7 separate regions of the Homo sapiens genome follow, and all the other regions are linked to region 5. Evidence: fine-mapped expression QTL. A gene starts in region 5. Each other region holds a variant in brackets. All regions are shown on one strand. Distances are between the middles of the regions.

The links. PIP is the estimated chance that this variant, and not a neighbour inherited with it, causes the effect.
Region 1: its variant is fine-mapped to the expression of COMMD10 in fibroblasts (GTEx, PIP 0.92).
Region 2: its variant is fine-mapped to the expression of COMMD10 in whole blood (INTERVAL, PIP above 0.99).
Region 3: its variant is fine-mapped to the expression of COMMD10 in whole blood (TOPMed, PIP above 0.99). The same link has a PIP of 0.9 or more in lung.
Region 4: its variant is fine-mapped to the expression of COMMD10 in whole blood (TOPMed, PIP above 0.99). The same link has a PIP of 0.9 or more in blood mononuclear cells, hypothalamus, lung, monocytes and skeletal muscle.
Region 6: its variant is fine-mapped to the expression of COMMD10 in whole blood (TOPMed, PIP above 0.99). The same link has a PIP of 0.9 or more in blood mononuclear cells.
Region 7: its variant is fine-mapped to the expression of COMMD10 in whole blood (TOPMed, PIP above 0.99).

Annotation. Positions count from the first base shown.
Region 1 is chr5:116,303,912-116,308,637 of GRCh38, forward strand. No RefSeq gene overlaps it. Among named protein-coding and RNA genes, the nearest start is that of MIR12130, 51 kb to the left of the region's middle. The variant C/G (reference allele first, on the strand shown) is at 2,489.
Region 2 is chr5:116,168,064-116,172,063 of GRCh38, forward strand. All of the region lies in intron 5 of COMMD10 (COMM domain containing 10), which reads left to right. Among named protein-coding and RNA genes, the nearest start is that of COMMD10, 85 kb to the left of the region's middle. The variant T/C (reference allele first, on the strand shown) is at 1,515.
Region 3 is chr5:116,110,719-116,114,718 of GRCh38, forward strand. The region is part of intron 4 of COMMD10 (COMM domain containing 10); the gene reads left to right. Among named protein-coding and RNA genes, the nearest start is that of COMMD10, 28 kb to the left of the region's middle. The variant C/A (reference allele first, on the strand shown) is at 1,829.
Region 4 is chr5:116,296,025-116,300,750 of GRCh38, forward strand. No RefSeq gene overlaps it. Among named protein-coding and RNA genes, the nearest start is that of MIR12130, 43 kb to the left of the region's middle. The variant T/C (reference allele first, on the strand shown) is at 2,297.
Region 5 is chr5:116,082,080-116,086,736 of GRCh38, forward strand. It overlaps COMMD10 (COMM domain containing 10), which reads left to right and starts at 2,946. Exons shown (of 7, transcript NM_016144.4): 1 at 2,946-3,014. The coding sequence starts at 2,974. RefSeq lists enhancers at 2,740-2,899, 3,193-3,487.
Region 6 is chr5:116,194,916-116,198,915 of GRCh38, forward strand. All of the region lies in intron 5 of COMMD10 (COMM domain containing 10), which reads left to right. Among named protein-coding and RNA genes, the nearest start is that of MIR12130, 59 kb to the right of the region's middle. The variant T/G (reference allele first, on the strand shown) is at 2,262.
Region 7 is chr5:116,447,234-116,451,959 of GRCh38, forward strand. SEMA6A (semaphorin 6A) reads right to left here. Exons shown (of 19, transcript NM_020796.5): 19 at 1-578. It overlaps SEMA6A-AS1 (SEMA6A antisense RNA 1), which reads left to right and starts at 265. Exons shown (of 3, transcript NR_109879.1): 1 at 265-558; 2 at 2,395-2,584. The variant C/T (reference allele first, on the strand shown) is at 2,583.

The DNA.
Region 1 (4,726 bases), 220 kb after region 5:
GCTGAGCACGGCCTTGGCCGGTTAACTCTATTTGCTTAGTCATTCGTTCATTTACACATGTATTTACCCATTAACTAATAGGCCAGTCAAATGAGGTTACTTCTGGAGTGCTGTAGTTCTGTTTGCATATCAGGATCTACAATAAAAGCATTGCCTTAGGTCCTCAGGTAGAGGTTGATCAGGGGCAGAAAGGCTTTTCCTGCTGACTCCACCAGCAGCATTCTGGTAAGATGAAAAATGGAGAATGATTAGTGTGGGCCACCCTTGAGAGACTATGGTTAGTCATAATTGAGTAGACACAGCAATACCTTCACGAGACTATCCATCAAGAAATAAGTTTTTTAAACTGTAGTTCTAGTAAGAAAGACAAACCTATTTATTTTGTTTAAGTAAGTGTGCTTGGTGCCAGGGATTCGAAATAAGATAGGGGCTCATCTCTTTGGCCTTAATTCTAGGCTAAACATTACTCAGCTTGATGGTAAGTGTAAAACTGAATACAACTACTACAGCAATGACCCACTGGAAATGTGTAGCACTTTACAGTTTATAGAAATCCTTTTATATGCTTGTTCTCGTTTGATCCTTGCATTATTCTTTAGTTAATTGAACAAGTGTTATTTCCATTTTCTAAATGAACAAACTAAAACGAAGACACCTAAATCACTTGCCTAAGATTACACAGCTGAACTCAGACTAGAACTCAGAATGTCTAATCCCTAGTTTAAGGCTCTTTTAATACTTCACTGTGCCAATTATCAATTTTTGTCCCTCCAAATTTTCCCTTGAGTTCTCTCTCTGCCGTTAATGTTTGGAATCCCTTTAAGCTGTCCTCCTTTATGTGAGCACCATATTAAGCTTTCTAAGTAGAGGGTGCTGGAGGGATATTGCAGGAGGAAGGGACTTCTCTTGTAGGCTCCAGCAGCTGCACTGTTGGTCACTGGTATGAGTGTGAGTGCATCTGGTGGTACTGTGCCCCAGCCAGAGCACACAGTCCCTTGGTAAGCTTGCAGCCCTGACCTATCCTAGTGATCACCTTCTCATAGCCCTCCCAACACAGACACTAGAAATTCTAGCCCTCTTGCCCCTCTGCATGCCCACTCACCTGCCTCACCAGTTGTGACTCACTTGTACCCTGCCACTCAGATTTGCCCTCCTGACATGGACACTAGGAGTGCCAAGCCTTCTACCCAACAGTGATAGTCCCAAAGTATCTGTGCATACCCAATCTGGCTGTGGCTCATGTACTTCCTAGAGAGTAGCTTTCTTCTTACTCAGTGACTGTTAACCAGCTCTGGCATGAGCAAGCCAGCAAACCTCTCTTCCATCCATTGAAGTGCAACTAGACCTTCTGCAACCAGATAAGAACCTGAGCCTTGAGGAAAGATCCCCTTCCATCCTTCCTTGAGCACTCTCCCTCAGCCCTGTGGAACATTATAAAGTTCTCTTACATCTTATAGTTACTGTTTTCTTATAGCTTAATCTTTTTTTTTGAGACAGGTTGTCACTCTGTTGCCCAGGCTAGAGTGCAGTGGCGTGATCTTGGCTCACTGCAGCTTCTGCCTCCCAGGTTCAAGTGATTCTCCTGCCTCAGCCTCCCAAGTAGTTGGGATTACAGGTGTGTGCCACTGTGCCCAGCTAATTTTTGTATTTTTAGTAGAGACGGGTTTCACCATGTTGGCTAGGCTGGTTTTGAACTCCTGACCTCAGGTGATCTGTCTGCCTTGGCCTCCCAGAACGCTGGGATTACAGGTGTGAGCCACCGTGCATAGCCAGCTTAATCATTCTTTATATTAAGCTTCCCTTATTTAAATCACTGTTTGGTTCCTGTCTCCTGATTGGACCCCAGTTGATGCACTCACTAAATGTTGGTGTGAAGTCACAGACAAGGTAAAGTTTCCTATGGGTAGGACTTTATCATATATCTCACATCACTACAAGCACCTGCCTATTTTAATGCCTGACACACAAAAAGTCTTGAATAAGTTCTGATTAATTGAGCACAATTTAAGTTAATTTTAACACCCCTATTTGTTGAGATGTAATAACAGCCTACTGAGAGGTCCAGCATGCTGAGAGGAAAGAGTCAAAAATTTGTTCATGTATGTGATCACTTATTTGTTCAGTAATGTTGATCAATAATGTTGACTGGGATAAGCAGCACTGGCTCCAACTGCAGGTCAAACAGCAGAATTGGCCCCAACTGGGAGGCGGAGTGAATCATTGCTGTTAGAGGACAAGCAAAGGGAACATTCAGAAGGAAAGAATGAAAACAACACAGAAAGACCCAGAAAGAACCAGGGAAATACAGAGTACTCTAATCACTTCTGAGGCTCAGAGGGGACAAATGACCTGTCCCATGTCATGTAGCCCTCTTCTTGGCAGAGCCAAGAGTAGAGAGCAGATTCTATAATCCTCAGTCTAAACTCTTGACATTACATATTGCATTGCTTCTCCAAGTGGGGCAGGAAGGGGTGGTAATGCAAACTGC[C/G]ATTTCGGGAAGTGGTTAAAAAAAATACCTTAAAATGTGGTTATCCTTTACCTAGTAGTTCTAAAGGAGTCCATGTTTGGGATCCAAGAAATTCCCCTGCCAATGCTATTACCTTTTGGAAAACAGCTAGCAGTCTGTCAAATATGCTAGATTTGGGGTTTGACGCCCCTCAAGGTAATCAGTGACCTGTTAAACCACAGTATCTCAAGCCTTGTAGGCAAAGCAAAATGTTACCTGTCCTACCCCTGCTCAAAGTATCCATCATTTCTCTAATGTAGTCTCACACCCATATGTAAAGCCTCTCTAGCACTCCTTTCCAAAATCTGTAGCTTAATTATGCTAATGATCTTCATTTATCATGTTGGTTTACTTATCAGGACATTTTCCTATTTCTGGTCAGATGTTTTTCCAGGGATTCAAGGCATGGAATCCTTCATTAAGTGGGGAAGAACCAACAGAATTTGTTCCACATATTCCTCTGACACATCCCCAAAAGCATGACTTCTAGCCTGAATCCTACAATGAATGTATGGGTGTATGTGACACACTGTAATTTTTCATCAACAGATGGGTCACATATGAGCCAAAGATGAATGTAGATGTAGCAAGGTCTGTATGAACTAAGCCAAACCATGTTTAGAATGTCTTTGTTGGCTGTCATTGGGAAGTAGTGCATGCTGATTAACTGATTTGAGATGTGCATACGCCTCTGTGCTGGAAAGCAAGAGACACGTGGGTCCAGAGAAAATGGACCAGCCTGTAAGTGTCTTAGCAGAGGCCAGATGCTCTGCAAGGAGTTCCTGTGAAATGAGAGCTATACTTTTCAGACCACCTCTAGCTGAATACATCTAATTGGGAGTTGCAGGTGCATGGGAAATAAAATTTCCCTCACTGGGGAATTTGCTGCAGTGAGGATGGCTCTATTAAATCAGTGAGGAAGCAAACTTCCAGGACTTGGACATACTTACTTAGGCTATACACTTTGTAGGCTGGGCTTGCTCTAAGAGCCAGTCCTGAGATGCTTTCTGGCCTGATGGTTTTCAACAAAGCCACTATTTTTCTTTCTCTCTTCTTCCCTGTGTCTCTCATTCCTTGCACATATACTGTTCTAGAGATCTAAGGTTTTCTCCAGGAATACTCTTCTTTTACTTTTGTTTTATTCATTTAAGAGACACTGCTAAACTCTGGGAATACAGCAGCCCTCCGTGCAACTTCTTTTTGTTCGTTTTTAAATTGGGCAACACCTAATTCCATAAAATAGAATGAGTGTTTCTGAGACTTCTATTTTAGTCAAAATCTTGCCATCCTCTCTTAATAACCAATATAGGATTCTGTTACAGAGAGATTCAGAATAGTAGACTTCTGGACCTTGGATGTCACTGAGTTTAAGAGAAAGGTAGTCCCAGGACTCTGGTCTAGCAGCTGAGTAAGGCTCAGGCCTTAGAATGGCTTAGCTTGCTCCATTGCAATGCATCATCCTGGATGTTAAAATCCAGCTGTCTCTCTGAAAACTAAATATGAAAGACTGAGATTTAGTCAACTTTGCTGAGATTTAATTTACATATAATAAAATGAATCATTTTAACTGTGCAGTTCAGTAAGTTTTGAAAAATGTCTATACAGATTCATGTAACTGCCACCAAAATTGAGAAAGGACACTTCCACCATCTCAAAAGATTCTGTGTGTTCCTTTGTAGTAAGTCTCTTCTACCCCATCCCTAGACAACAGCTGATGTGCTGTCATTGTACACATATATTAGCTTTGCCTGTCCTAGAACTTCATGTTAATGGGAAGCATCCTGTATGTACTGTTTTGTGTCTGGCTTCTTCAGTGTATTTTTGAAATTTATCCACATTGTTGTGTGTATCCAAAGTGTGTTCTTTTTCATTGCCAAATAATGTTCTGCTATATGAATATATTACAAAATATTTGTCTGTTTATCTATTGGTGGATTTTTGCATTCGTTCCAGTTTGGGGCTATTATGAATAAAGCTTCTGTGAAAATTCGTTTCTGTCTTTTGGAAGACACATGTTTTCATTTCTCTTATAGAAATGCCTAGGAGTAGAGTGAGTCGTATGGAAGGTGTTTAACTTTATAAGAAACTGCTAAACTGTTTTCCAAAATAATTGTACCATATCACATTCCTACCATGCTTTTATGAGGGTTCTTAATGATCCATATCCTCACCAACACTTGGTATTGTGAGTCTTTCTAATTTAGCTTTCTAGAAGATGTG
Region 2 (4,000 bases), 86 kb after region 5:
GGTGTGCTGTATTCAGGAGACCCATCTCGTGTGCAAAGACACACATAGGCTCAAAACAAATGGATGGAGGAATATTTACAAAGAAAATGGAAAGCAAAAAAAAAAAAAAAAGGGATTGCAGTCCTAGTGTCAGATAAAACAGACTTTAAAGCAACAAAGATCAAAAAAGACAAAGAAGGGCATTACATAATGATAAAGGGATCAGTGCAACAAGAAGAGCTAACTTTCTTAAATATATATGCACGCAATACAGGAGCACCCAGATTCATAAAGCAAGTTCTTAGAGACCTATGAAGAGACTTAGACTCACACACAATAATAGTGGGAGACTTTAACACCACACTTTCGATATTAGATCAATGGGACAAAAAATTAATAAGGATACTTAGGACTTGAACTCAGCGCTGGACCAAGCAGACCTAATAGACATCTACAGAACTCTCCACCCCAATCAACAGAGTATATATTCTTCTCAGCACTGCATCCCGCACTTATTCTAAAATTGACCACATAATTGGAAGTAAAACAGTCCTCAGCAAATGCAAAAGAATGGAAATCATAACAGACTCTCAGACCACAGTGCAATCAAATTAGAACTCAAGATTAAGAAACTCACTCAAAACCACACAAATACATGGAAACTGAACAACCTGCTGCTGAATGACTACTGGGTAAATAACGAAATGAAGGCAGAAATAAAAAGTTCTTTGAAACCAATGAGAACAAAGACACAATGTACCAGAATCTCTGGGACACAGCTAAAGCAGTGTGTAGAGGGAAATTTATAGCACTAACTGCCCACAGGAGAAAGCGGGAAAGATCTAAAATTGACACCTTACCATCACAGTTAAAAGAACCAGAGAAGCAGGAGCAAACAAATTCAAAAGCTAGCAGAAGACAAGAAATAACTAAGATCAGAGTAGAACGAAAGGAGATAGAGACATGAAAAACCAATTCAAAAAATAAATTCATTCAAAAAAAAATCAATGAATCCAGGAGCTGTTTTTCTGAAAAGAATTAACAAAATAGACCTCTAGCCACACTAATAAAGAAGAAAAGAGAGAAGAATTAAATAGACACAATAAAAAATGATAAAGGGGATATCACCACTGATCCCACAGAAATACAAACTACCATCAGAGAATACTATAAACACCTCTATACAAATAAACTAGAAAATCTGGAAGAAATGGATACATTCCTGTACACATACACCTCCCAAGACTAAACCAGGAATAAGATGAATCTCTGAATAGACCAATAACAAGTTCTGAAATTGAGTCAATAATTAATGGGCTACCAACCAAAAAAAAGCCCAGGACCACACAGATTCATAGCTGAATTCTACCAGAGATACAAAGAGGAGTTTCCTTCGGAAACTATTCTGAACAATAGAAAAAGAGGGACTCCTCCCTAATTCATTTAAGAGGCCAGCATTATCCTGATACCAAAACCTGGCAGAGACACAACAAAAAAAGAAAATGTCAGGCCAACATCCCTGATGAACATTGATG[T/C]GAAAATCCCAATAAAATACTGGCAAACTGAATCCAGCAGCATATCAAATAGCTTATCCACCATGATCAAGTCAGCTTCATCCCTGGGATGCAAGGCTGGTTCAACATATGCAAATGAATAAACGTGATCCATTGCGTAAACAGAACCAATGACAAAAACCACATTATTATCTCAATAGATGTAGAAAAGGCCTTCGATAAAATTCAGCACCTCTTCATGCTAAAAACACTCAATAAACTAGGTACTGATGGGACGTATCTCAAAATAATAAGAGCTATTTATGACATACCCACAGCCAATATCATACTGAATGGGCAAAAGCTGGAAGTATTTTCTTTGAAAACCGGCAGAAGACAGCGATGCCCTCTCTCACCACCCCTATTCATCATAGTATGGGAAGCCCTGGCCAGGGCAATCAGGGAAGAGAAAAAAATAAAGGGTATTCAAATAGGAAGAGAGGAAGTAAAATTGTCTCTTTTTGCAGATGACATGATTGTATATTTAGAAACCACATTGTCTCAGCCCAAAATCTCCTTAAGCTGATAAGCAACTTCAGCAAAGTCTCAGGATACAAAATCAGTGTGCACAAATCACAAGCATTCCTATACACCAATAATAGACAAACTGAGAGCCAAATCATGAGCAAACTCCCATTCACAATTGCTACAGAGAGAACAAAATATCTAGAAATACAACTTACAAGGGATGTGAAAGACCTCTTCAAGGGGAACTGCAAACAACTTCTCAAGGAAATGAGAGGACAGAAACAAATGAAAAACATTCTATGCTCATGCATAGGAAGAATCAATATCGTGAAAATGAAAATACTGCCCAAAGTAATTTGTAGATTCAGTGCCATCCCCATCAAGCTACCATTGAACTTCTTCACAGAATTAGAGGAAACTACTTTAAATTTCATGTGGAACCAAAAAAGAACCCGTATAGCCAAGACAATCCTAAGCAAAAAGAACAAAGCTGGAGGCATCACACTACCTAACTTAAAACTATACTACAAGGCTACAGTAACCAAAACAGCATGGTACTGGTACCAAAACAGATATATATACCAGTGGAACAGAACAGAGGCCTCAGAAATAATGCCACACATCTACAACCATCTGATCTTTGACAAACCTGACAAAAACAAGGAATGGGGAAAGGGTATTCTATTTAATAAATTATGTTAGGAAAACTGGCTAGCCATGTGCAGAAAACTGAAACTGGACCCCTTCCTTACACCTTATATAAAAATTAACTCAAGATGGATTAAAGACTTAAACATAAGACCTAAAACCATAAAAACCCTAGGAAAAAATCTTGGCAATGCCATTCAAGACATAGGCATGGGCCAAGATTTCATGGCTAAAACACCAAAAGCAATGGCAACAAAGGCCAAAATTGACAAATGGGATCTAATTAAACTAAAGAGCTTCTGCACAGCAAAAGAAACTATCATCAGAGTGAAAAGACTAGCTACAGAATGAGAAAAATTTTGCAATCTGTCCATCTGAGAAAGGTCTAATATCCAGAATCTACAAATAACTTAAATAAATTTACATGAAGAAAACTGCATCAAAAAATGGGCAAAGGATAGGAACAGACACTTCTTAAAAGAAGACATTTATGCAGCCAGCAGACATACGAAAAAAAGCTCATCATCAGTGGTCATTAGAGAAATGCAAATCAACATCACAATGAGATACCATCTCACGCCAGTTGGAATGGCGATCATTAAAAAGTCAGGAAACACCAGATGCTGGAGAGGGTGTGGAGAAATAGAAATGCTTTTACACTGTTGGTGGGAGTGTAAATTAGTTCAACCATTGTGGAAGACAGTGTGGCGATTCCTCAGGGATCTAGAACCAGAAATACCATTTGATACAGCAATCCCCTTACTGGGTATATACCCAGATGATTATAAATCATTCTACTATAAAGACACATGCACGTGTATGTTTATTGCAGCACAATTTACAATAGCAAAGACTTGGAACCAACCCAAATGCCCATCAATGATATACTGGATAAAGAAAATGTGGCACATATACACCATGGAATACTATTCAGCCATAAAAAAGGGTGAGTTTATGTCCTTTGCAGCATCATGGATGAAGCTGGAAACCATCATTCTGAGCAAAGTAACACAGGAACAGAAAACCAAAGACTGCATGCTCTCACTCATAAGGGGGAGTTGAACAGTGAGAACACATGGACACAGGGAGGGGAACATCACACACTGGGGCCTGTCACGGGTGTGGGGCTAGGGGAGGGATAACATTAGGAGAAATACCTAATGTAGATGACGGGTTGATGGTGCAACAAACCACCATGGCACGTGTATACCTATGTAACAAATCTGCATGTTCTGCACATGTATCCTAGAACTTAAATTATAATAAAAAAATCTGTCCGTTGTTTTGTGAATTATCATATTTAAACTCAGTTTCTGGTGGTTGATGTCCAAAATAAGATTTTGCTTAGTGGT
Region 3 (4,000 bases), 28 kb after region 5:
GGAGGCCTTGAGAAACAAAACAATCATAGCAAAAGGTGAAGGGGGAGCAAACCCATCACATGGTCAGAGCAGGAACAAGAGAGGAAGGGGGGAGGTGCTACACACTTTTAAACCACCAGATCTCAAGAGAATTCACTATTGTGAGGACAATACCAAGAGGGGTGGTGCTAAATCATTCCTGAGAAACCTGCCTCCATCATCCAATCACCTCCCATCAGGCCCCACCTCCAACATTGGGTATTACATTTCAATATGAGATTTGGATGGGAACATACATCCAAACTATATCAGGTTATATGTTTCCAGAAATTTACCTATTTTCTGCAAGTTTTCTAGTTTATGAACATGTAGTTGTTCATAATAGTCTCTGATGATCTTTTGAATTTTTCTCATATCATTTGTAACGTCTCCATTTTGATTTCTTATTATATTTGGATCTTCTTTCCTCTGGTTAGTCTTGCTAGCACTTGATCAATTTTGCTTATCTTTTTAAAGAACGAGCTTTTTGTTTCATTAATTTTTTAATTTTTTTTTGGTCTCTGTTTTATTTAGTTTTGCTCTGATCCATGTTACTTCTTTACTTCTGCTAATTTTGTGTTTGGTTCGTTCTTGCTTTTCTAGTTCCTTTAGATGTATTGTTAGGTTGTTAATTTGCAATCTTTCTACTTTTTTGATGCAGGTATTTATTGCTGCAAAATTCCTTCTTAGCACTGGTTTTGCTGTGTCCTACAGGTTTTTGTATGTTGTATTTCCAGTTTCATTTGTTTCATAAAATTTTTTAATTCTCCTTAATTTTTTCATTGATCCAAAGGTCATTCAGGGGCATATTGTTTAATTTTTCTGTATTTGTATAGTTTCCAGAGTTTTTCTTGATATTGATTTCTTGGTATTGGTTTTATTCTACTGTGGTCTGAGAAGTTACTTGGTATGATTTGATTTTTAAAAATTTGTTGAGGCTTGTTTTGTGGCATAACATATGGTCTATATTGGAGAATATCCCATGTGTTGATGAGAAGAGTATTTATTCTGCAGTTGTTGGATAGAATGTTCTATAAATGTGTGTTAGGTACATTTTGTCTGAAGTCCAATTTAAGTCTGATGTTTGTTGATTTTATGTCTCAGTGAGCTGTCTAATGCTGTGAGTGAGATGGTGACGTCCCCTATTATTGTTTTTCTGTCTAACTCTCTTTAGGTCTAGTAATATTTGTTTTATGAATTTGGGTGCTCAAATGTTGGGTGCATGTATGTTTAGAATTGTTATGTCCTCTTGTAGAACTGACACCTTTAATATCAGGTTTTATACTTTTGTGTTTTCTTGATGGGGTTGCCCTGTCTCTTTCAAGTTTAGGACTCCTTTGAACATTTCTTGTAGAGCTGGTCTACTTTTGACAAATTCTCTTAGTATTCTGTTAATAATCTGTCTGGGAAAGAAGATTATTTCTACTTCATTTATGGAGCTTGATATTTCTCGATGTAGAACTCTTGACTGATAATGACTTCATTATTTTTTACTATTTTTATTTTAAAGTATGCTTTATCTGATAAAAATATAGCTACCTCTGCTTGCTTTAGATTTTCGTTGGCCCATAATATCAATCAATATCTTTTTCCACCCCTTTACTTTTAGTCTATGTGTCTTCACAGATAAGGTGGGTTTCTTGTAAATAGCATATAGTTGATTTTTTTTCTTTTTTTTTGAGATGGAGTCGCGTGCTGTCGCCAAGCTGGAGTGCAGTGGCGGGATCTCAGCTCACTGCAACCTCCGTCTCCCAGGTTCAAGCAATTCTCCTGCCTCAGCCTCCTGAGTAGCTGTGACTGTATATAGGTG[C/A]GCGCCACCATGCACAGCTAATTTTTGTACTTTAAGTAGAGACTGTCACCATGTTGACAGAATGTTCTCTATCTCTTCACCTCATTATCCGCCTGTGTTGGCCTCCCAAAGTGCTGGGATTACAGGCATGAGCCACCGCTATATGGCCTATAGTTGATTTTTTTTATTCATTTAGCCAACGTGTATTTTTTAGTAGGACATTTAATCCATTTATGTTTGAGGTGGTATATGAGATTTTGTTCCTGTCATATTGTTTTTTTCATCATTTTGTAAACTTTTGGGTTTTTTGTCTGTCTAAATTTATGGTTTGTTGGAATTCTGTAATGGTTTCATTTGATTCTTCTTCTTTGTATGATATCTTTACTAGTGTATTTTATATTTTTGTGTGTTTTCACAATGATAAATATTGTCCTGTCTCTTCCAAGTTTAGGACTTCTTTGAGCATTTCCTGTAGGACTGGTCTAGTTTTCATGAATTCCCTCAGTATTTGATTGTCTGGGAAAGACTATTTCTCCTTTATTTATGAAGCTTAATACTACCTGGATATACAATTCTTGGCTGACAGTTGTTTTCTTTCACACTTTGATTATGTCGTCACATTTTTTCCTGCCTTGTAAGGTTTCTGCTGGGTAGTCTGCTGTTAGTTTGATGGACTTTCCTTTATAGATGACACTTTTCTCTTGATTGTAGAATTTGTTCTTTCACTTTGACATTAGACACTCATTATAATATGTTGTATTGAAGTCCCTTTTATGTTGTATTTGCCTGCAGATCATGGAGCCTCCTGTATCTATTATGTCTGTATCTCTTGCTAGCCTTGGGAGTTTTTCAATCTATTATTTTGTTAAAGATTTTTGATGTTTCTGTCCCTTTGGGAATACCAGTAATTCATAAGTTCAATGCTGTATGCAGTCCTAAACACTTGGAAAGCTTTGTTCATTTTTTTCTTATTTTTAAAATTTTTATCAGACTGCACTGTTTGAAAAGACCTGTCTTCATGTTCTGAAATCTTTTCTTCTGCTTGGCCTAGTCTATTATTGGAGTTTCCATGTATTTTATATCTCCTTCAGTGAATTTTTTAGTTCCAGGATTTTTTTAAAGACGTCTATCTCCTTGGTAAATTTCTCATTCATATCCTGAATTGATTTTCTGATTACTTTGTATTAGTTTTCAGATTTCTCTTGTATCTCATTGAACTTAATTGAAATCAAAATATTGAATTCTTTGGGGTTGTAAGGTTTTCTTTTTGGTTCTGCTCTATTGTTGGAGAATTATTGTGTTCCTTTGATGGTGTCATATTGCCATGCGTTTTCATGTTTCTTGTGTTTTTATGTTCATTCTAGCACATCTGGAACAATTGCTTTTTTTTTCAATTTAACTTTTGTTTGGAGTAGACTTTGCTCCTTTATATGTGACTTCGATGTTGGTTGAGTAGGGCCACTTGTTTTTATTTCTGGGTGTGCGCATTGGTGAATACTTTATGATATTCTTGGCTATAAATATTGTTATTGGTATCTGTGGATTCCTTTGTGTGTTAGGGTGTGGGTTTTGATGGAGGATGTGGTGAAATTATGCTAGGGACTGGAATGCTTGATAGGTCCTTCTTCAGGTTTCAGTGGTAGCAGTGGTTGTCTAAGCAGGTCTATATCTAGGGCAGTGTGTGCTGGCACATGAGTTGGCAGTTCCATGCAGGCTGATTATTGGGGGCTCTGGGTGGCTCTTTTGGATACCAGTTGTGGTAGCAGTGTACTGGGCAAGTGAGTGGGCTCATGAGCTCTTGGGTAGCTGGGTGGCCTCAGTAATGGTGGCAGCAGTAGTGGTAAGATGCTCTCCCCAGTGCCCTTGTGTTGGGAGTGATTGCAATTGGCTGTGTGGGCTGACCTCCAGGCTGGGTGGCACTTGCAGATAGAAACCAACCGAGAGAGTAATGGCAGGGTTTTTATGCCCAAACTCTGTCCCCTGGGAGAAGTGCTTGGGTGTCTCAGGCAGTGGGCTGGACTGTGGGACCTCCAGAAGTCCAGATCCTGCATTGTGTCTCAGAGAGTAGGGCAAAGCTGGGTAAATCTGGATTGGGAAAGCCTGGGCTTGTCCTATGAAATGCTTGCATGAGGGGTGACAACACCTTTGCTGAAGTACTGCCATGATGGGAGAGTGGGGCTACTGGTCCCAGTG
Region 4 (4,726 bases), 210 kb after region 5:
TTTAGGAAGAGTGATGGGACATATTGAGATATGTCACTTTGATAACTATAGAAGGATTGAAAAGGAAATCTCTTTAAAAATCAAATATGAGAGCCAATAACTCAGTATTCAAGTGTAAGGGCTTCGAAGTCAGGCATTTATTTATTCAACAAGTAATCACTGCTGAGTATGGTGAATATGGTGGCAGGAACTGTGTATGCTAGGTACCATGTTTACAGTGATAGGCAAAACTAGTTCTTGGCCTCTTGAAATGTAATGTGTTAGTGAAAAGTAAACAAATATGGAATAAATGAACAAATATGGGACAAAATATAATTGGATTCTATTCAGAGAAAATTAATGATGGAACCAAACTTGGACTGGGGCATCAAGGAAGGATTCTCTGAGGAGTGAGATTTGAGCTGAGTCCAATATGATGAGTTAAGATGGCACAATAGTAGAATAGAGTGACAGGCATTCTAGAGAGAATGGCCCATGCAAAATCTCAGAGGATGGGAAAGGCTTAGCGCATTTCAGGAACCAAAAGGTCAGTGTGGCTAGAGTGTAGTGAACAGATGGCATAGTGGAGTGCACTACAATTAGGTAGACAGGGAGCCATTCTCTTACAAGTTTTGTCGTTTTTACCACCAAAATGTATTGCAAGTGTATCTCCAGGGCACTACCCTGTCCAAGCTGCCATCAACTTTGCCCTGGACCACCTTTCTTCCATTCTAGCCCTCCTCCAGTCCAGTCGTTGTACAGAGCTAATTTTTAAAAAATAACCTATTAATTATACCATCTCCCTGCCTAAAACCCTTCAAAGGATCCTATTACACATTAAGTAAAATTTAACGATCTGGTTTCTCAGGACAGTGCAAAGGTTATATCCTTGTTCTTCTACTTTGTGTGTGTGTGTTGAGCAAGTTAATTTGTGAAAGTTCACTTTACTTATCTTTGTAATAGGAATAATAATCTAACTAACATGAGTGTTTTGAAGATTAAGTGAAATTCATGTTAAACATTTAGCATAATCCTTGAATCTCAATCATATAATAAGCATTAGCTGACATTTTTATAATCATTAAGAAAATAAGCAGACTCTCTGTTGAAATTTTTCCAGGTGAAGTTTGAATTAGAGTCAAAATTGTAGAAAGCTTGCTATGAAGCCCCTTCACTTTAAACTTATTTGGCATTCTAATAACAACTCCATTTTATAATCACAGATTCTAACACAATGCCAATTCTGCTTTTATTTTTTATTTAAAAAATGAGGTAATACATGTATTATGGGACCAGAATGAAAAAAATACTTTCTTCTGAGTACCTTTCCACGTGGCTCTTCTGGCTCTGAGAAATCTTTTTCTCTACTCAGTGAACTTTGATTTCTTCTTACCGTAAATAATGTCTTCTACACTTTATTCATTATACCAAGGATCAGCAAATGATGGACATGACCCACCACTTGTCTTTGTAAATAAAGTTTTATTGGAACACAGTTGTCTTGCTACCAAACTCACTCTTGAGACTTTCTCCCTTCCTTGCTTTGAAGAAATAATACCATGTTATAAGAGAGGCTGCGGATAGGGCTACATGACAAGGAACTGAGGGTGACCTCTAGGGGCTGAGGGAGAACAGCCAGCAAGAAATTGAGGCCCTTAGCCTTATAGCCTCTATGAAATAAATTCTGCGAACAACCTTGAATTAGCCTGGAAATGGGTTTTCTTGTCGTTTTTTTGTTTGGCTTTGTTTTGTTTTTTTCCCTGTTAAGCTTCTGGATGAGAGCACAGTCCAACTGACTCTTATTGCAGCCTTGTGAGATTTTAAACAAAGGACCCAACTAAACTATGCTTGAACTCTACCCATGGTAATTGTGAGATGATAACTCTGTTGTTTTAAACCTCTAACTTTGTAGTAATTTGTTACGCTGCAATAGATAACTAAAACAACAGCCATGCTCAATTGTTTACATATGGTCTGTAGCTGCTTTTGAACAACAGCAGGGTTGAGTAGTTGCAGCAGAGACCATATGGCCCACAAAGCCTAAAACCTGGCCCTTTATAGAAAGAAAGGATGCAGAACCCTGCTTTATACTATGCTCTCTAAACCGGAGCATCCCTAGAGAAATAAAGTAGTTGGTAGGGAACACAAAAAGTCGTAAGATGGACGTTGTATATATTTCAATAGCATCACTTCTACTTTTTGCCAGAAGTAGAAGAAATTACATTTTCTATCCTCTTTTGCAGCTACTGCAGCCGTGGAACTAAGTGTTGCTAATGAATTGTGAATGGAAGTGATCATTCATCTCCAGTTGTCTTCC[T/C]CTTTCTGTGATTGAAACCCAGATTTGGAGCTGAGTCAGCTTTGAGCAGACAAGAATGCTAATGCTTAAGAGGTAGGGAGCAACAAGATGGAAGGAACCTGGGTCCCTGAATATACTTATAGAACACAGCTGTCTCCATGCCCTTGACAGAAATAAAATATCTTGTTTGAGTTATTAAATTTGGGGTCAGTTTAGGCTATACACAGCACGTTTGCCTGTAGCCTAACTAATATGGTGGCAACATAATTTTATTATAATTGGCCAGTAATGTACAACATATTTTAAAATGGAGATTTACATTTTATGGCAAAATGCATATAAATGTTAAAGAGGAAATGGGAAACCTTAAAAAACAGAACAAAACCTTTGTGCTTGCAGCCTGCGAATTCAGGCTAAATTCTCAGTGTTACTGGGAACCTATATTCACCTCCCTCCTTCAGTGTGGTTATTTTGAGACAAATGTTTTGAGAAACCATAAGGGTATATTGTAAATTTCCCCCAAAGTCTTTCCATAATTCTTTTTCTACTGTTGAATAAGAGGACTGGGATGGTTCTGATTTATTCAGATGCATTAGTCAGAAGCTACTCAGGAATTATAATTTAAATTTCTGATCAATTTTGCTTCCCTAAAACTTTGATTTTTTTTTTGCCATCATTATGCAAATAGTCCTACTCAATAGACCAGCTTCATTTAATGCTAAAATTAGGAACACATTAATTTGAGGTATTTTATAGTAAAGCTTAATGGCATTTTTAATTTTGGAGAATTTTAAGGATTTTTAACCATTGCTCCCATCTCGCCATATGCACACTCCTGAAGTATTTTTGAAGCTCTTTTGCTTTTCTCTGAACTATAAGGTTGTACTAGCTGTTATGGAGGCCTACAATCCAAATCTAAATGATGGCAGTTTTCATAGCCTACTTTGTTTTATTTGAAATGGAAAGTTACTGATTTTTATTTCAAAAGAAGTAGTCTGCAAAGACAGGAAAGGTGAAGCCAGTCCAGTCAACAAATCTGTAAGGAAGATGGTGCTAGAGGCTTAGAGAGACTGTTTCAATCTCCAAGGCAGGAAAAATAATGAATATATAATAATCTTCTTTTAGTGAAACCAGAGTTCAGTCATTTTTAGCATCTTTTAATGAGAACCTGATTTTTTAATGATTTTTAAAGATTTTTCCTTCAAAAAATCTAGGTAAAGGAAAGCAGTTAATAGTAAATTTAATAGTTGCATTTATTTTTTTCTGACTTATGTTTGTATTTTTTTAATTGGCAAATAAAAATTAAAAACACTGTACATTCTACCCAAAACTTTAAAGGAAAGTCAATAATAAAGTTTTTTAAATCTATGATAAATATAGACTTGCTGTAAGGCAAGGAGTGCAGTGATTTCTCAAGGCCTTTCCTCATCTCTCCTTCTGAGATTTCTAAGTTTCCTTTGTGCACTATTTTTAGTCCACATTTCAAATTATTCTGCAGTTTCAACCAGACTACATAAGGGGACAAAGGAAAAAGCTGCTGTCCCCTGGATAAGGCTGCTTTAACACATCAACCTTGGAAGCTCCAGCATTCCTCTCCATCCCAAGAATGTGTTTATGCTTTGACAGAGGAGCAGAGTAATTTCCAGCTGATCAGAGAAAAGGTGACTTGTGTATTCCAGACCATGTGTTCTACTTTGCAGTCCAGCTTCTTACTCTCTTTCATGCTGCTGCAAGTAGTTCTACGAACATTGGGGTGCTTTAGAAATACTGAATGAATGAATTAATAGAGTATGTAGTTTTTTTCTGCCTTGGGCTCTCTCCATTTATTTGCACAGTACTATCTAAATTCTTAAAATAATTGTAAACTTAAAGTTGTACAAAAGTAGTTTTCAAACTGGTTTAGCCAGCTATGCTGGTATTTGGTAATTCCATTAGGGAATAGCCACATCCCTTCTAGGGAGTATCTCCTGAGGTCACTGATCCTTTTATTCATCATCCAGGAGATAAACATGAGAATAAAAGCCTTATAACCAGCCAGAGACCCAGATTTCTGCCCTCCAGAAGGCTAGAGCAAGTTCTCGCATTGCTGTGAAGAGATTTATGATAGTCATGAAGTTGACCTACACATGCTTCTGGGTACTGATGCTGCAAGACTGAAAACAGTTACATTCCTAGCAATTTCAGAGTTGTTTTATGTGATAGGGTCAAAATGAAGTGCTCCAGAGAGACATCAACAACATTCTTATACTGAAATATATGTTCAGTGTGTATAGATTTTCTGAGCTCATTACCCAGAAGATTTTAATTTCCTGCTGAAAAGAGTATCTTGATTAAAGACACACATAGACACACACACACACACACACACTCCTGTACACACTGCCTACAAACAGGCTTTCCTCACTGATGTGGGACAATTCTGACAAAGTTTTTTTAAGTCTCCCTTTACAT
Region 5 (4,657 bases):
AAGCTTCATAAGCGAAGGAGAAATAAAATCCTTTACAGACAAACAAATGCTGAGGGATTTTGTCACCACCAGCCTGCCTTACAAGAGCTCCTGAAGGAAGCACTAAATATGGAAAGGAAAAATCAGTACCAGCCATTGCAAAAACAGACCAAAATGTAAAGACCATTGACACTATGAAGAAACTACATCAACTAATGGGCAAAATAGCCAGCTAGTATCATATGACAGGATCAAATTCACACATAATATTAACCTTAAACGTAAATGGGCTAAATGCGCCAATTAAAATACACAGACTGGCAAATTGGATAAAGAATCAAGACCCATTGGTGTGCTGTATTCAGGAGACCCATCTTGTGTGCAAAGAAACACATAGGCTCAAAATAAAGGGATGGAGAAATATTTACCAAGCAAATGGGAAGCAAAAAGAAGCCGGGGTTGCAATCCTAGTTTCTAGCAAAACAGACTTTAAACCAACAAAGATCAAAAAAGACAAAGAAGGGCATTACATAATGGTAAAGGGATCAATGCAACAAGAAGAGCTAACTATCCTAAATATATATGCACCCAATATAGGAGCACCCAGATTCTAAAGCAAGTTCTTAGAGACCTACGAAGAGACTTAAGACTCCCACACAATAATAGCAGACAACTAAAAGGACTTTTCATGGACATAGATGTCTATATTCCAGAGAATGCAGAAATATCTTGGGTGAGGTTCTCATTTGAGGTGTGAAACTATTCACAGCATCACGCCTTTATAGAAACATGGTAATAAGAAGTAATCAGCCCATCATTGAAAATGAAGAGCATTAGAGTGAGTCGCCTCTGTGTCCACTGGAGACTTGCTTTTGTGAACACCTAAGAGGTCTGGGTTTTGTTTTCTAAGGAGGGTAGAATGTTTCTTTTACATACGTACCACATTATTTAAATCTCATTAAGATCCAAGGGAGCAGACATTATTCTCATCCCCATTACAGATTGGGAATGAGAAACTTGTTGAGGTTAAGTACTTTGTCCAAGGTTACATGGATTTGGGATTTGAGCCATCTTGATGCTCTTTTGCTCAAAATTCTGGCTATATATTTTTAAGGCAATCAGAGGGTGAACTTCATTAGGGATTTGAAACAGTTTTAGTTGGTTAGTGGTTCTACTTCAGGTAAGGAATCAAGACAAAAGGGAAATGATTCAAAGAATGAGGGAACTGGGACCCTTTTAAGTTGCAGATGAGGTCATCTGTGTTTGGATCAGAGACCTATAATTTATGTAGATTCACATACATCTTTTTCAGATATGCATACATTGGGGACTGTAGAGTGTTGTGGAACTAAATGTATTTGTATGTGTTCAACACACTGTATAATTGACTCAATTATCCATGTGGAGATTATTCAGATTTAATGTGCAATCTGGTTTCTCCTTTCAGTTAGGTTGTTCTTGGGCTGCTCCAGGAACTCCAACTAATTTAAATAATAATTTAAGTAAAACATAATTAGGAAGGAAAATTAAATTCAATTTTTTGGCAGCTCTTGAATATTCTACTGCTGAAACGTAACTAATCCATCCACTATCTTTTAATTCACCAATGCCTTTTTAGTACCACAGGATTTTACTGCTTTCTATAGATTATTGCAGTAGTTTCCAGGTAGCTCTCCTGCTTACCTCTTTCCATTTCAATCATCATTCTGCTGACAGCAACCTTCAAAAATCCAACTCCCACTGCAAAATTTCTTTGGTTCAAAACATTTAATGGATAGAAAAAACATTTAATGCTTACCCATTTCTCACCAGATTAAGTGCACATGCCACAACCAGTCATTAAAGGCTTTTTCTAGTCTAAATTCCTGTTCTTCAAACGTCAAACCGCCCTTCTACTCTACTGACCTGAAACACACAGCCTCACCCTCCACATCTCTGCAGACCCACCGCATTTGCCACCTGCCCTAGGGAGCTTTTCCTGATCTTACCTCGGATGCCTTTCACTGCTCCCACATCTGAATTCCTTTAACTCACTCCATGTTTTTCTCAAAGGCAGACCAAGGTATTTATGCAAACATGGTGTCTCCCTAGTCTTGGGTGAGGTCTTTGACATCACTCACTGCAGCGATTCATCTCCCCTACTCTGCACTGTCAGACTCTAAAGAAGGGTGCAACAAATACTTGTCCATTTAGACTGCCGGCAAACCCTGAGGGCAGGAATTTTGGCCTTTTGTATCTCCAGTGCCTAGAACAGTGCTTGGTACACAGTAGGCACTCATTCATTGAACGTTGCTGAAGGAATTGAACGTACATACTACAAGCCCTGCAGATGCAGATACAGGAGGGGTTGACGGCACAGTGCTTAGGGTGGAACTGGAGGCACCACCTCTCCTGAGGGGTGATGCGCCGCTTCCTGGGCAGGCTCGGGGGAGCTCGCTCAAATGCCTGCCTCTCTGTAGCCCAAACGCTGGAAAAAAAAATACTCACAAATCACCTATCCAAGTATGTACACACAGGCTCACTTAAACCCGCCCTATTAAAAAAATATACACACGCACACACCATTTATCCAAGTATGTATACACGGGCTTGCTTAAACCTGCCCTATTAAAAATAATAATGTATATATTTATGCACGAACATACACACATATATCTATACAGGTCTGTACATAGACTTGCTTAAACCTGCCCTATTAAATACAGACACACACCCCTATCCAGGTATGTACATACATATATAATATATAAATATAAAGACATATATATGCACAGACTTAACTCCAACACGATTGGAGTGTCGGGAGGGCAACTGGGCTGCCCTCTCCGCCCTCCAGGACTGCGGGACAAGTCTCCCGGCGCCCGGGTCGCAGGAGACCCGGAGCCCTAAAACGGCCCCTGCGCGGCTTGGGCCTTCCGGCTTTCCGTCCGCCGCGGCCGCCATTGGCTGGGTTCGGCGCAGCTAACAGACGGCGGCAGTGCGAGAAAGCCGAAGATGGCGGTCCCCGCGGCGCTGATCCTACGGGAGAGCCCCAGGTAGCTGATCCGTTAAGCTCTTGCGGTAGCCGCGCCCAGGAAGGCCCAGATCGGGCTCGCACAAGGCTGTCCTTGCTGCCTGCCGCCTGGGCGCCGCGGCGGGCCCGGTTGAGTGGGGTGGGGTGGGGTGGGCTGCCGAGGTTGCGACGCTGCGTCTGCGGAGTGCGTGGGGCCGTGTAGCGCCTCTACAGTCACGGTGGTCCACCTGTGGGGCTCACAGTGCGCCTGGCAGCTGAGGTCTGTACGGAAGCGTGTGGTCTGCAAGCGTGGGGTCTGCGTCACTGTTCGCGGAGTTTGGTATCAGAAGTTCCCGGGTGCTGCCTTCAGTGCTGCCGAATCACGTGGAACGGTATTCCGTTTCCGATTTCAGTTCCGGTTCAGACACTCTGGTGGGAAAGGCTCACGCTGCTGCTGGAGGGTCTTTAATAGCCAACATGTGTTAATACCCCTTTTAAATCAGTATCGAATAGGGGACCGAATTTTTGGTTGGTAGAAGAATCTAGCCTGGCTTTGGTAGCATTTGCTTTTATTTGCATTTTAAACAGATTTTTAGTTAATTTCTACTTATGGTAGATAAAGTTGGTTGTCCATGGTAGTGATATAAAGCTCCCCTTTAACATTATTTAAGTAAAAAAAGACTCAATTTGTGAAAAAATAAGCAATAGTGCAGGTAGCGTGTGGATACAGAAAAAGTACTGAAGTATATAGGCAAAATAGTGTTCGGAAGTAATTTCTTTGTGCTTGGATTGGGTAGAAATCTTTCAGAAGAAAAGAGTTATTTTAAAGTTTTTCCTTCTTTCTGGATTCCTTTTGTTACCAGTGGAGGGTGTCCAGGTTCTTGGCGTCTTGAACAAAGAACTGGAGAAGACGCACAAAGAAAGCGAGGAAAGAATGAAGAAGACATTTATTGAAAATGAAACTACCCTCCACAGTGTGGGAGCTGCTTGAGCATAGGGGCTGAAGGGCCCCTACAGAATTTTTGGGAATTTAAATACCCTCTAGAGGATTCCATTGGTTACTTGGTGTACTCCCTATGTAAATGAAGAGGATGAAGTAAAGTTACAAAGTCATTTTCTCCGCCTATGCCATATGGAGAGGACATTTCTTGTCATAGCTGAAGTGGGAATCAGCTTTATGTTCCCAGCCTCCTGACCCTATTTTCCTGCCTCACTTTGGTTCTGATCGCCAGTTTCTTTCCTCATACCAGTGTCTTGGGGAACACCGCTACATCAGTAAACTGTATCCAATATGGTGCAGTATAGAATTGTTCTCATCACATCATTTAAAGTTGATTATTACAGGAAAGGTGCTGTGGCTCATGCCTGTAATTCCAGCACTTTGGGAGGCTGAGGCGGGCTAATCTCTCTCTCTTTTTTTTCCCTGAGAGGGCGTTTCCCTCTTGTTGCGCAGGCTGGAGTGCAATGGCGCCATCTCGGCTCACTGCAGCCTCCGCCTCCTGTGTTCAAGCGATTCTCCTCCCTGAGCCTCCTGAGTAGCTGGGATTACAGGCACCCGCCACCACGCCCAGCTAATTTTTTGTATTTTTAGTAAAGATGGGGTTTCACCATGTTGGCTAGGCTGGTCTGGAACTCCTGGCTTCGGGTGATCTGTCCTCCCTGGCCTTGCAAAGTGCTGGGATTATA
Region 6 (4,000 bases), 110 kb after region 5:
ACAAAATACTAGCTAACCAAATCCAACAACATATCAAAAAGATAATCCACTATGATCAAGTGGGTTTCACACCAGGGATGCAGGTATAGCTTAACATATACAAGTCAATAAATGTGATTCACCACATAAAGAGAATTAAAAACAAAAATCACATGATTATCTCAATCGATGCAGAAAAAGCATTCAACAAAATCCAGCATTCTTTATGATTAAAACTCTCAACAAAATCGGCATACAAGGGACGTACCATAATGTAATAAAAGCCATCAATGACAAACCCACAGCCAACATAATACTGAATGAGGAAAAGTTGAAAGCATTTCCTCTGAGAACTGGAACAAGATAAGGATACCTACTCTCCCTACTCCTCTTCAGTATAGTACTGGGAGTCCTAGCCAGAGCAGTCAGACAAGAGAAAGAAATAAAGAGCATCCAAATTGGTAAAGAGAAAGACTGTCAGTGTTTGACAATATGATCGTTTACCTTGAAAACCCTAAGGACTCCTCCAGAAAGCTCCTAGAACTGGTAAAAGAATTCAGCAAAGTTTCCGGATACAAGATTAATGTACACAAATCAGTAGCTGTTCTATACACCAACAGCGACCAAACAGAGAATCAAGTCAAGAACTCAACCCCTTTTACAATAGCAAAAAATAAATAAGTAAGATACGTAGGAATATAACTAACTGAGGAGTCAAAGACCTCTACAAGAAAAACTACAAAAGACTACTGAAAGAAATCATAGATGACCCAAACAAATGGAAGCACATCCCATGCTCATGAATGGGTAGAATCAGTATTGTTTAATATTACTCAAATCAGTAAGAAAAAAACAATCCCATCAAAAAGTGGGCTAAAGACATGAATAGACAATTCTCAAAAGAAAATATAACAAATGGCCAACAAACATATGAAAAAATGCTCAGCATCACTAATGACCAGGGAAATACAAATCAAAACCACAATGCAATACCACCTTACTCCTGCAAGAACAGCCATAATCAGAAAATCAATAAACAGAAGATGTTGGCATGGATGCAGTGATCAGGAAACACGTCTACACTGCTGGTGGGAATGTAAACTAGTACAGCCATTATGGAAGACAGTGTGGAGATTTCTTAAGGAACTAAAAGCAGAACTACCATTTGATCCAGCAATCCCACTACTGGGTATCTACCCAGAGGAAAAGAAGTCATTATTTGAAAAAGACACTTGCAAACACGCATGTTTATAACAGCACAATTCACAAATACAAAGTCATGGAACCAACCCAAATAAATGCCCATCAACCAACGAGTGGAGACTATTATTCTAAGTGAAGTAACTCAAGAATGGAAAACCGACCATTGTGCGTTCTCACTGTTTTGTGGGAGCTAAGCTATGAGGACACAGAGGCATTAGAATGATACAGTGGACTTCGAGGACTTGGGGTGAAGAGAGGGAGGGGGTGAGGGATAAAAGACTACAAATATGGTGCAGTGTATACTGCTTGGGTGATGGGTGCACCAAAATCTCACAAATCTCCACTAAAGAACTTACTCATGTAACCGAATACCACCTGTACCCCAGTAACTTATGGAAAAATAAATATGTTAAAAAAAAAAAGTAATAGCCAAATCTGTTAACTCTGTGATTCCTGCTTTGGTTAATGTAGATTATTATCACATGATATTAAAGAGTCAGGATTATGGAGTTAATGTTTTACTGGTGCTTTTTTTTTTAAAAAAAGAAAAATGTTTATTATTTAAGGCTGTGTGCAGTATGTGCTTATATTCAAACATCCCTTATGCTGTTAGTCACAGAAATACTAACTATGTGTATATGAATGGCTTTTCACAGTCTATATAATGATTGGAAAAATAACTAATATAGTATATTCTAAATGATGAATCTTTATCTTCCTATATAAAGGACATCATATTACTAATTTTCAAATTTATCAGTAAGACACTGAACAAAGCCTAAAAATTAATGGATATTGTTTTAATGTGATGTATGATTTACTAAATTAAGCTTAGGAGCATTTCTGTCGATGTATTCCTATCTTTCAGTATGTGCTTACATACAAATAACAACTTTGTAAGTATTTTCTTTTTACAGATTTTCAGTAATTTATATCAGAAGTATATAATCAAGAAACTTTAGTGTTTCTGTCCGTTAAATATTTAAAATATTTTATTCTAAAGTAAACCCTTTTGGCATTTTTTAATGTGGGGTTGCCTCATCAAATTTTGCATAGCCTACATTACAATCATAGAATCT[T/G]GAGTTTTGGAAGAGACTGTAAAGTTCATTTCATTCATTCAGCATCCATTTGGTGGTAGTGTGCTTTGAAGACTTACTAAGAAATTAACACCTAGGATAACATTTTTTACTTTGCAAAATGTCATTGTATTAATATTTTACGCAAACAATACATGAAATTACAGTACTTTTTTTCTGTTTCTTGCCAAATTGTAAGTAGAGTTGAAAACAGAATTATTTTTTGGAGATATGATCTTGCCCTGTTGCCCAGGCTGGAATGCAGTGGTGTGATCTTGGCTCACTGCAACCTCTACCTCCTGGGCTCAAGTGATTCACCCACCTCAGCTTCCTGAGTAGCTGGGACTTGAGTGCCACCAAGCCTGGCTAATTTTTATTTTATTTTATTTTTTGTAGAGACAGGTTCTCACTATGTTGCCCAGGCTGGTCTCAAACTGAGCACAAGTGATCCATCCCCCTCGGCCTCCCTACGTTCTGGGATTACAGGTGTGAGCCACCGTGCCTGGCCCCAGATTTTTATTGTCTTTGAAACAGAAAATTCATGAAAGGATTCTGCCATTTTATTCACCTTTCTGACACTGCAGTAAAGTGCAGATTAAAGTATAGTTCCCTGTGAAATAGCCAGTTACCCTTTGAGTAGACTCCAGTTCACATAAAGAAGTACAGGGAGATTACATGACTTGCCTAGGTTATATATTGAGTCAGTAGGAGAAGTAGAAATACTAAGTGCAGATTCACAGTTCAGTTTAGCCCAGAACTATGGATGCTTTCCTTATGGTTATTACCTGGAAGGCTTTACAATCACTGATGTACCCTCCCTGCTGTCTCCTCTCACTTACACATATGCAGTCTTGATTATTTTGATAATTTTTCTACATTTATACACACTTCACACATAATTTTTGTTTTTTTAAACCTCAGTTTATAGCCTTAAGTTATACTCAGGAATGTACATTGTACTCTTAAGCAGAAAGACCTTAATATTAGTTACAGCTGAAGAGTGAGCTTAATTTCTAAGTACATTTTGGTTTTTCCCTTTTTGTATGCCTTTTATAGGTGTTCACCTTTAGCAGCCAGTCTCTTGACTTTGCCTAATACTATAAAGAATAGCAAACATTGTATTGACATAATTGGTTGTTATGGAAGTCATTTTTAATAGAATGACCATACCTTATTTATTAAAAAATAATAAACTTTATTTTTCAGAGCAGTGTTAGGTTCACAGTAAAACTGATAGGAAGGTATAGAGATCCCCCGTATATTCCCTTCCCCTATGCATGCATAGCCTATCCAATTATCAGTATCCCCTATTAGAGTGATATGTTTGTCACAATAGATGAACCTATATGATTATCACTCAAGACCCTAGTTAATATTAGGGTTCACTTTTGGTGTCATACATTTCATGGATTTGGACAAGTGTATAATGACAGTACATCCACCACTGTAGTATCATATACCATAATTTCTACTACACGGAAAATCCTCTACAGTCCTGTTTTACATTTTCAGAAGTGTCATATACCTGGAATCATACAGTATGAAGTCTTCTCAGGTTTTCTTCTTTCACTTATTAGTATGCATTTAAATTCTCCATGTCTTTTCATGCATCGATAGCTCATTTATTTTTAGTACTAAATAATCTCTTGTCTGAAGGTACCACAGTTTATTTATTCATTTACCTACTGAAAGACATCTTGATTGCTTTCCAGTTTTGCTAAGTATAAATAAAGCTGCTGTAC
Region 7 (4,726 bases), 370 kb after region 5:
GCCCTGCTGCGTGATGGGCAGGACCACCACGCTGGGGATGTGGCTGGGGGAGGCCCGCAGGGGCAGGTCCGTGGGAATCACAGGGGAGCCCATGGGGGGCATGTCCTTTGTGCAGGCATTGATGAGGTTCTGGTTCCTCTCCCACTCGCGGCTGCCGCGGCTGGGCTTCCGCTTCTGCTGCAGCGTTGGGGTTGACTCTGGGGTGGGGAGGGCCGTCAGGTCCAGGTGGTGCTGGTCTGCTTTAATGAGCATCTTGGCCGTGTTGCCGGGAGTGGCGAGCTTGCCGTTGTGCATGAGTGGCGTGAGGATGGCCTCCGGCTTTGGGTCTTTGGATTGAGTGTCCCCAAAGAGGCCGCTGAGCTTGGTGACGCTGCTCATGGAGCCCCGGCGCGAGTGGGTGAGCTCCTTCTCCTTGCGCTGCACCACAGCCACGTCTTTGCGCCGATGATCACAGACGCAGTAGACGGTGATGCCCGAGAAGACGGCCCCCATGACGAAAGCCAGGATGACTGCAATGGCCAAGAGGGTGACGGGAACCAGCTGGTCGTGGCCTTTGAGGTAACTTTCCCGAATCACTCCTGCAATAGACATCGCATATGGCGTTAAGAAATGAAAGCACACCCCGAGGCTTGTTTTTGCTTGGCATTCACCTTGTTAATTAATAACAGTAGTAAGTGACAACAGCACCTCTGCACAACTTGTCTTCCAAGCTCAGCTTGCCAAACATTAACCAATTAATCCTCCCCAAGCCCCTCGTGTGCAGTATGTAAATGGACTCCATTTGTAGCCTTCTTTGTTGTCTAAAAAAGTGCTGTTCAGGCCGGGCACGGTGACTCACGCCTGTAATCCCAGCACTTTGGGAGGCCGAGGCGGGTGGATCACGAGGTCAGGAGTTGAAGACCAGCCTGGCCAAGATGGTGAAACCCCCGTCTCTACTAAAAAAAAAAAAAAAAAAAAAAAAAATTAGCCAGGCGCGGTGGCGGGGGCTTGTGATCCTAGGTACTCCGGAGGCTGAGGTAGAGAATTGTTTGAACCTGGGAGGTGGAGGTTGCAGTGAAGGGAGATCAGGCCACTGTACTCCAGCCTGGGTGACAGAGCGAGACTCCGTTTCAAAAAAAGAAAGAAAGAAAAGTGCTGTTCACTCTTTCCAGTACCTGCACTTTCTACTCTGCTTCACTCCAGGGAATATGGGAGGTTTTGGCTTTCAAAAGTTATCTTTCTTTCCTTCTTTATGGCTTTTTAACCTTCCCTTCCTAGAACTGGGATAACCAAGTTATCCTGAGTCTGGAGGAAGAGGCAACAATTTTATGCATGTTAGACAAACAAATCACACACTCTGGGCTTCCAGTTGGGATCTTTTCCGACGGCCCCCTTGTGGCCACCGGAGCCTCCGTCTGGGGAAAAGTGTTTGCCTTTTAAGCAACTAGAGGAAAGAGAGTGTGTGTCATTTTTATTTACACTGAGAGAATATAGCTAAAGTTCACAGACTACAAATGTTTGTGCTGATTTTGCATCACCTCTCAAAAAAAAAAAAAAAAAAAAACAGTGCAAACTCAATTTCAGGTAACTATCCTGAATATTTGAATGAAGCTTTCTCACTGGAACTGAAAGAAGATTCAGAAATAAGACCATTTGGGGCCCTGTAGTGGGTTTGAGAAGTGTTAGGTACCATTATTGCACCTAGAGTTTGCTGTCACAGTGGGATTTTTCAGCAGAGCTAATCTCTTCAATTTAATAAAAATTATGTGACTACACCCATCCGTAATCTTACACTACATTAACCAGGATTCAGTGTTTCTGAAGGAAGGTGCTTTCGCTATTCCTGCTTAATCAGCCACCCAGCTGAGTGACTCTAATCAAATGCAAACACAGAAGCTTTTATTTTTTAATACCAAGTGAGAATACACATCACAGTTGTCAGATCTTAAGTGCTTGATGCAGTCGCTAAAAAATAAAATCTCTAATACCTCAATTCCTGCCTCTGGAGAGTGAAAGAACATGAATACATTAGAGGCACTGCATGGGCTGAGGAAATGTAAACATTGTTCCTATTATGGAAATGATAGCAAGACAGAAAAGGTACCTTCTCTGGTCTCGGGAGACGCATTTTTCATCTACTAAATCAACTCTTTCTGGAATATGTTTCATGTATTTTACTGGCAGGTATCAGTGGCACAGAATTAGAATGAAAGGAAATAAAGATCTCTACCCCTTCCCAAGCCCACAACACGCAACCTTAAACTTCTACTGAAATGTTGTCTTTGTCACAGCCGAGACCTTGAAGCTTTCTCATGGGGGTTTTTCTGCTAAAATATTTTGATTTCTGAAGTGATGGTTTTAAAACCCAGAAACCTTAGCCTGAAAAGTACATTCTCTTTTTCTTTCCTTCCTAAGGGTCCTCCTCCCTTCAATTGTGACATCACAGTTGGTTGCTGTGGAAATGATTGTCCTGTGACAAAGGATTGTGACTTAAGTAGAAGCAGCAAATATCTCTTAAGAAATAAAGATTCTGTGATCCAACAAATACCCTTGGTAATAAAAGGCAGTCAAGGCAATTCACCATAAGGAAAGAGTGTACAAGA[C/T]GGTAAGATATCAAATAATTTTCAAATGTGATACTTTTCAAATATTTCCAGATTTATCTCCATCAGCTTTTAAGGGGTAGAAACTGAGAAGCAAAAAACAGCCGGAAATTTGGCTGTAACTCACACCTTTTATGTGTGAAGCTCCCCAAACAGTGGGGTGTCCTGCATTCAAATATATTTTAGTACCTATTCACCAAGGAAATGTGCTAATGAAAATTTTCTTTCTTAAATTTGCATTTCCTTATTATGCTAAAATAGCTACTGATTTTTCTTCAATTTTGATTATGTATGGGGTTCTACCGAACACCGTTTTTAACCCCCTACATATAATTGCACAAAAATGTACACCTGTGGATAAAATGGTTTTAATTTCTCTCATTGACTTGGTGATTTCAGTGGGAGTTGAACACAGGCTAGACGGCCCCAGTAATGGGGTGGGGGTGTATTAGGTGTTTTTTTCATGGCAATGAGTATTTCATGAAACCCTTCCAGGCTACCAAATTTAGGGGGACTGGATATTCCCAATAAATGTGTATTATAATAGGAAGCTATTTACAATTGACTTTGGCATTCTACAATTTAAACTGCCCTCTCAGTTTAAAAGGAACGTGGAAAGAGTAAAGCTAGAGCAATTCATTGGTTTCACTGGGAAAACTGCAAATTTTTCACATGTATCCATTGCTTCTTAGCCTTACTTTTAGCTCCCAAATATCATTCTTCTTTCATGTCTGAAGGTCCTTGGCTATTTTAGACTCATGAAAGCTACTTATTCTTTCACTGGGAAGAACTCTTTTTTAGTGGATGATATTTGAGTTCAGGTTTTTGGTTGTTAACAAGTTAAGTAGGATCTGACCTTTCAGGAAAATGGTATCTCAGACAGATTTTTTCCCCCGTCTCATTTTGTTATATAAAGAGTGGCCTTAAAAACATTTTTGCATGTCTTCATCTATCCATGGGGAGGCAGAGGGCTTTCCTCATCTGCTTGTGTAAATTCAGAAACGTCCAAAGATGGAAACAGATCAGAGAGTAAGTTGAAAGTGCAGTTGAAGAAGATAAGGTAAACGTTATTTTTGGAAATGCCTTTCAAACTTAAAGCTTTCTGCTTATATCATGAAAAAGGCCAAAGAAGCATTCACAGAAATGATCAAGTCAACTTTGTGGAATAGCCATTGTGAAGGCTTGGAAACAGCAGACTTGTCAGTAGTGGTGATAAAAGCAGCTAGAGAAGATCTCAGTGGGCTTGGAATTGCAGGCTCCCACTTACTGGCTGGGTGACCTTTTGGCAAGTGACTTAACATCTCTGGGCCTCAGTTTTTTTATCTGTAGCATGAGGTGAACACACCTAATCTTACTGCCTTACTGGATTGTTACAAGAATCAAAGGAAATAAAAAATAGGAAAGAGCTTAAATGCTGTAGTTTGCTGGACAAATCTAAAGCTCAAAAGAAGCCACAAAGGAGAAGTGGTGGGTTAGTGGCTCACAGAGGGCTTCCAAGTGATAGTCGCAGCTGCTCCATTGGATTCCATTTGCTATTGGTCTCCCATGGGAGAGGAGTAGACCTGTGCTTCCAGGTCCAAACTTCGTGCCTTCTAAATGTAGTCAAAAAGGTGATATGAGATTTCGAAGCAATATAAGGGAATGCATACTGTTTCAGGATGCCTATAGTTACTGAATTTTGAAATAATTAAAACAACAGAAGTGGAAAATGTTGGCAATTATAGTTGGATTCTCAGTGGAGTGCAAATCCTGGGCAAGTACCACATTTTTTCGGCATTTATAACCCTTGCCATCCACAGAGCTCTTAGTTGGGTAACTCAACAAATGATGGCTGAATAAATGGGTTTTCAATACATTGTAGAGCTATTTTTAAATGAACTTCTAAACTTGGGAGGTAATCTTTAGAGTGACTATCACCCTTGCTTTTGAAGTCATGGAAATAAATTCTATCTCCAATCATATAAAAGAATTTTAATAGTAGCATCTATCAGACAAACAAAAATAAATCTATAATGGTGCTCAGTATTTGCTCAAAACAATAAGAAGAGAAACTATTTCAAAAATGAAATTAGTTCTGGGAAAAATCCAAAAGAGTCGATGACGATAAATGGGTTATTTACAACAACAGAGTGCCCCAGTGGAACTGA